Homo sapiens: one gene and its partner. The protein of the gene in region 2 interacts with the protein of the main gene of each other region in a biochemical or structural test. Each region holds a gene or a part of one and is shown on either strand. Other genes may lie near its edges.

Region 1 (3,500 bases), on a different chromosome or scaffold from region 2:
CATTTACTCTCACTTCCATATACTCAGTATTACACTGCCATTAACTTCTAATGCTGTCCAATCAATATAACAATGTTGAATTCAGAATGATCAAACTTGAGTTTGATATTTGACAGGTGCAAATGACCTAAGTTAACACTTGGGTAAGGTACATTAAATCTGTACAGGCACTGCTGTATAGAGTGCCTGTAAAATACCTTATTCCTGCTCTCAAGCTAATACCTTTCTCTCAGAAAAGTATTCCATATGAACTACTTACCTAGCCTAGTTTTGCAAAATGATAGCATTTTAAAGGAAAATAATTAAGAGCTAACATTTATTATTAGCCCCATTTTCTAGGTGGGAAAACTGAGGGTGTAAGTAAGTTGGCCATTGTCACATAGCAAGTGGTGAAGCTAAGATTTAAATCCAGGTTGATTTCCAGGGTCTAATCTCCTAACTCATACTGTCCTACCCTCAAAGGGTAGGTTGTATTCCTTAGAATATTAAGCAGGAGGATTGCTTGAACCTGGGAGGCAGAGGTTGCAGTGAACTGAGATCGTGCCACTGCATTCCAGCCTGGGCAACAGAGCAAGACTCCATCTCAAAAAAAAAAAAAAAGAATATTAAGTCACAAAAATCTATTTCATGACTAAAATTTTTCCTTTGGGAAAATATTAATGTTATTTATAGGTAAGAAGTATTTACTGTAAAGAGAGAAGAAATAAACATGTCAGGGAACTATGTAAAAAGTGAGATTAGTAAATTCCTGATAATATTCTATAGAAGCAGTATCTTTTGATATATACTTCCTATTAAAATTGTAGAACTTTAGAGATTAAAAGAGTCCACTTTGGGAGGCCGAGGTGGGCGGATCACGAGGTCAGGAGTTTGAGACCAGCTTGACTAACATGGTGAAACCCCGTCTCTACTAAAAATGCAAAACTTAGCCAGTCATGGTGGCATACGCCTGTAGTGCCAGCTACTCAGGAGGCTGAGGCAGGAGAATTGCTTGAACCTAGGAGGCAGAGGTTTCAGTGAGCTGAGATTGTGCCACTGCACTCCAGCTCCGGGTGACAGAGCAAGACTCTGTCTCAGGGGAAAAAAAAAAAAAGAGTCATCAGTTCAACTCACTTATTTTATGGGTGAAGCCTGATGGGACTGCAGAGTTTATACCAGTATTAATAATGTATCAGGCTATGAATGGAAAGTATGAAGAAAGGGATTCTACATTGTTATGCTAATTTAAATTATTGCTTTGCTGGGCGTACAACTGGTTTTCATCTTTCTGAATATGGCTTGGGATTATCAAGATGTACTTCTGCAACTAGTTAAATAAGCATTAAGTCAACTATACATATATTCCACTTGTACATATCTTTTCCAAGGTAGATTTACATCTCTTTCTAAGAACAAATAAATTTTAAAAAATTATACCTACTCAAATCTGCAATTTTACTTTGGAAAAGATTTATCATTAGTAAGTGAATTAGTAGGAACATGCATGAATTTCTGCCTTATGCAGTCTCTCTTTTTATCTCTCAGCTGGACTCCTGTAAGGAGTCAACTCTTTAGTTTCTTCTTCAAATTGCACACCCTCCCTCAAATTGCATACACCTCTGATTCATCCTTCATACTCCTGCCAGAAAAACCTTTCTAAAACACAAAACTATGCCTTCCTTATAGTTAAAGGCATTCTGTGGTTCTCTGTTATTTATATGACCAACTCCAGCTCCCTTGGAAGGGCATCATTGGCCTTCCTCAATCTGTTCCTGCTCTCCTCTGTGACTTTCCTTGCCAATTGCACCCAGCGAAAGTGAACTACTTGCAGAGCCCAAGTCATGCAAGGCCAGTGTGCATGTGCTATTCCTTCTATCTTTCCCTTTTATCTTCCTCAAAGACACTTTTTCATCCCTGATGACTTAGTTAAAGCTTTGCTTCCAGTATGAAGCTTTTCCTGACACTTCCTACTGCCCACACTGATAAAACTGAATATTCCTTCTTTGGATCCCAATTTATCCATTTCATCTTTCTATCACTGTACCTGTTAGGCTTATTATGTGTACTTATTTGTATACTATTTGATTACATATTTGTCTTTTTCCATTTAGTTCTAATAATATTTTTGGGTGCAGGTCCTATGTAACCTATTTATCTCTGTATTCTGGTTACCTAGTATGGCATCTGGTAGATAACTAGCACTTAAAGCATGATTTTGAAAAAAATGAATGTGTGAATGTCGAATATACATGGAAGAAGTCCAGAGTTCTATTAAAATGGTAATGAAGGAATAACTTTTCAATATGCTTCTGAAAGATGGGAAGGTCCTAGTCTAAAATAAATCCAAATTTATCTTGTTATATGCTCTCCTGAAATATTCCACAACTACTTACGTTTATCTTCATATAAAGTCTTAGATTTCAGGTAGACCTCAGAAGGATCCAATTTTGGGGATCCTGACCTGATAATGCTCGGTGGAAAAGGCATAGGCTGAGGAATAGGCTCATTTATGGCCTCCAAACTTCCTGCATTTTCCTTTTTATCTGTTTTCTGAAATGGAAAAGAGCCTTACTTAGTATTTTTTAAAAAGCAGATGGTTGATTAATTCATAAAACTGATATCTGAAATGGATATGTCAACTGATTATAGTTGTATAGGTGGCAGGATCAAAGACACAGCAGATTTACAGTTACAGGAATTCATTTTCATAGCAATGTGTATTTGGTTGAAACATATTTAACTTAAATTAGAAAAAAGTTTATAGTAATATCAACTGAAGAGCCTTAGTTAGTCCTATGTTTAAACAATTTTGCCCTTTTCTCCACCACCAAGACACAAATTGACTTTGAGATGAAGATAAATAGAAATACAATACAAGGCAGCACTTCTAAGTAAAGTAAGAGGGAGATTCAGAGAATATCTTCATAAAATTCTTAGCACGGCCCACCTCCCATTCACTGAGTTTAATTTCTAAGGAAGATGTTTAAGATAATACTCTTTCTAAGAAAACAGGAGAGGTTAACTCTAATTTAGGTTATAAAGATGGCACTGTGAAAACCCTGTCTGGCCAATTCACATATATTAAGAGAAAATGTACCATGCAAGACAATTAGATAAGGGAAAGCATAGTAGCATATTTTGATATTTTTCCTATTCAGCTAGAACTTTCCCAAGATAACAGCCAAGCAAAATGACTTATTTAATAAAATGTTAACAATGAAATCCAATAAATGGCCTAAGAAATATGGTTTTGAGACCAGCTCGTTTTCCTGGATTATTGTTAGGAGAGGGAGATTATGGATGTTTGTGATCATTAACAATGACTAGAATGCAGGGGCACCAGTCTGTCAGGGAGTAATCAGGGGTCAGCCACTACAAAGTGTCGTGCTAGAGGGGACCCTTCAATCACCCAGACCCAATGAGAAGGCAGAGAAGCTAACAGTAGTCTCCTACCCTTCCCCATACATCTTAGCATTCTGTCAGAGGCGGTTAAAGTTCATCAGACCCTTCCATCAATTATA
Region 2 (3,500 bases):
TATGAAACTGCCGTCATATACGTGATCCATCATTGATCAAAATGTTGTTACGTGTTGCATGACTGTACTGTAAACACTAAACATTTAGTTTCCTTCTCTATGAGAAGTAAGAGATCTTATTATCTCTTCCTGCTCCTCTCGGGAATATTTACCCCTGGTTTTTTGTTTGCTTGTTTGTTTGTTTTTAATACTTTGCTGCAGCAAAACTCTGCATTTACCAGAACTTTTCCATGATCTTACTAACACATGATGTAAATGTATTAATGCTCCTTCCTTAATTTAAAATTTCTGTTTTACTTTCGGTGTGTCCTGCACATGTCTTGATTTATTTATCCCATAAAGATTTAAAGGAATCCCATTTTGCACTTCAGGAAAGTGCTCAGTGCTGGAACTGAGAGGTGGGAAAAGGCATCAGTTTATCTTTCCTGGACTTTAAACTCTGGAGCAGAAACAGCACATTATTTAGTACAAAGGGCAGTGCTAAATGTGCACTTTTCCCACAAACGCTGATTGGAGATGAAGATAATAATGGTGATAGGTAAAATACTGTGGAGAAGGGCTTCAAATATTGGTGGCACGGTAGCACAGCTCTTTGTGTAGTACCAATCACCAGCAGGAACCTTGGAGTATTTTCAGAAAGGTCCAAATGGGAATATGAGAGGAAGCCTGAATAGGCTTTGGGAATAAATGATTCACAGTTATAAAAAGGATTTGGCTTATAAACTTTCCTTTCCATAAGTACAAGGAGACAAGCAATGAGCAGAAAGAGTAAGTAGGCCTATTTCTTTCACTAAGAAAAAGCAGAACATACAAGCCCATTATTACTCTGCTAGTTAATTATTAATCCTATGCTTTTCTCCTGCTAGAACTTCTGGTACGGTATATAATTCATGAACACACTTTGCCAGCTCTCTGCCTGCTGGTTAATCTCTCTTTGGTGTCATTTTAGTCGTTTTTGAAAACCTCCAGTTCCCTTTTATAGGACTTAGCTTTTCAAGTCCTCGAATCTTCATTTTTAGGCATCTACTTGCATGTTCTGATCTTTTGAAACTTTAGTGATCATCAATTTGATTTTTTTTAGGCTCCGAGATATTTCTTTTAGCCCATTACAATGTAGATAATATCAATAAGTCTGTCACTATTGTAAAGTTCCCGTTTTTCTATGAAGACACAATAAAAAATATTCAGTGTGTACGTGAAAGCTGGTCTTCTTGCCAATGAGCGCTAAAAATGTGCCTCCAGGTAGTAGCTGGTTAGTGCTTGTAAAGATGCCACATCACAGCATATGAGGAATCTTCAAAATATAGGGCCATAACCACCTTCCTAAGGCACCTGGTACTGGGGACTTATTGCTGGAAATATTTTTTACTCTCGTTGTTCTTAAACAGTTAAAATGTGTGTATTGTGTTTGGTGAAAAGTTATTTTGAACATGTGGAGAAGAAGTACCACAGTCCCAGAAAATGGAACTTTATCCTGTTGCCATTTTTAGACCATTATATCTCCCTTAACCCTAAAAAAGCTTCAGCTTTGAAGCTCATGTTATCAGACTATATCATCTACTTCCCTTTCATGCTGTCATCTGCCAATCTATAGGACATTTTCCTCTTTTTCTCAGAGTTGTCAGTTCCTCTCTCATTGTCACACTCTCTGGTACTACTTCTGCCTTAATACTTGGCAATTTTACTATACATGTAGATCATCCTTCCCACCTTCCATCCTTTCAATCTTGGTTGTCCAGTTCCTTGACCTCCAATGTCTGATCTCCAATCTACCTCAGCTTCCACTCCACTCACACCCAAGGTCATGGCCTATGCCTTGTACCTCAGACCAGTGGTTGGCCAGCTATGGTCAGGTAATATTCAGTTTGCCACCTATTTTAATAAAGTTTTATTGGAACACAGCCACGCTCATTTATTATATGTTGTCTATGGCTGCATTCATACCACAATGACATAGTTGAGTAATTGTAACAGAGACTGGCCTGCAAAACCATGTGTTGGATCAATAACTGTACCCACTCCATAATCACAATTTTGTGCACCCTTCTCTGATTAGAGCCTTCTATCTTCCCAACTTACTCTCCACTACTCAACCACAGAGATGCTATAAGCTATAATGGCAGAAATTTTTGTCTTATTTTTTTTAACTGATGTGTCTAAAACTTCGAGAGCAGTATTAGGCACACTGTAGACACCCACACAGTATTTTTTGAATAAACAAACATAGGGTATGAGACAGCTGAGGTGTACGCTGCTACAATTAAAACATAATTTGAAAAGTTTCCTACTGCTTTTTTTTTTCTAGCTCATCTCCAATGTATAACATGTCTTAGTAGGGTAGGCTATGTCTACTGTCATTTATGGAGTGATTCACTGTGTTTCCTTGCTCAATGCCATCAATGTAGGACACTGTCAAAAGTTTGAATAATACATTTTTATTGTACCATATAGAAATAGCCGTAGACTTCATTCATTTGTTTCTTCAATCAAAATGTATTTATTGATCACCTATTTTGTATATGTACTTTTCGGAAAGGAGAAACATACCTTGATGTCAGGAATGTATATTCTTACAGTGAGAGGCAGGCAATACAAATATAAATAAAGTAATTTCAGATTCTGACAAGTGCTATTTAAAAAACCAGGGTAATTAAGTGGAAAGTGATGGAATGCTCAAGGAAGCCCCTCCAAAGAGAAGACCTTTGAGAAAGCTCAATAATGAGAAGCCAGTCATTTGAAAACAGAGGAAAGGGAATTCTGAATAAAGGATAAAGCAAGTACAAAGGACTTGGGGTAGACAGAAATCTAGCATCTTAGAAACACACACATTTCTGGGGATGTGGTCAAGGGGCAGATTGTAACCAAATGTAGGTGGAACAACACGTGGAGACCAAATCATGTGGAACATTATTCACCATTGTGAATAATTTATCTCTAAAACTCTACTGTGGAATTTCAATCAGGGGAATGATAGAACTTATGTTTTGAGAAGAACACCACAACTGTTTTGAAGAGAATGGACTCATGGGGCAGGAGAGGAAGCAGGGAGAAAAGTTCAGAGGCTCTGGTCGAATTGGGGCTGGAGATGATGGTGTTGTACACCAGGAGAACAAAGGGGATAGTGAGATGTGGCCAGATTTAAGTTATATTTCAGAGTAAAAATGAGGACTTGCTGTTGGATTGGAGGGGAGAGGTGAGAGGAAAGAGATGGATCTAGGATGAATCAAGTGAGAGACAGTTCTGCTTATGCTTCCAGGTCTCCCAGCTGTTCAGGTGGTTTATGGCAGAAAGAGCTGGGAACAGGACACCTGTGCTTCTGTTCTGAGTCTGACACTATTAATTCATGTGAAACATGATAATAATATTAGGTTGGTGAAAAAGTAATTGTGGTTTTTGCCATTACTTTTAGTAATGATAACAACACATTATAACTGCTAATTATTGAATGCTGTCTATATACGGGGCACTGCGGTTTTTGCTTTACATAAAATCTTCCACTT

What was found.
Region 1: the proteins of SLC15A5 (region 2) and MAGI3 interact in a test that uses a peptide from one of them, tested with the Homo sapiens proteins (one large-scale study listed by IntAct).

What each region holds. Positions count from the first base shown.
Region 1 is NC_000001.11:113,645,515-113,649,014, reverse strand, and holds part of MAGI3 (membrane-associated guanylate kinase, WW and PDZ domain-containing protein 3), read right to left. Parts: intron 2,530-3,500; coding exon 2,373-2,529; intron 1-2,372.
Region 2 is NC_000012.12:16,218,686-16,222,185, forward strand, and holds part of SLC15A5 (solute carrier family 15 member 5), read right to left. Parts: intron 1-3,500. UniProt on the Homo sapiens protein: Proton oligopeptide cotransporter.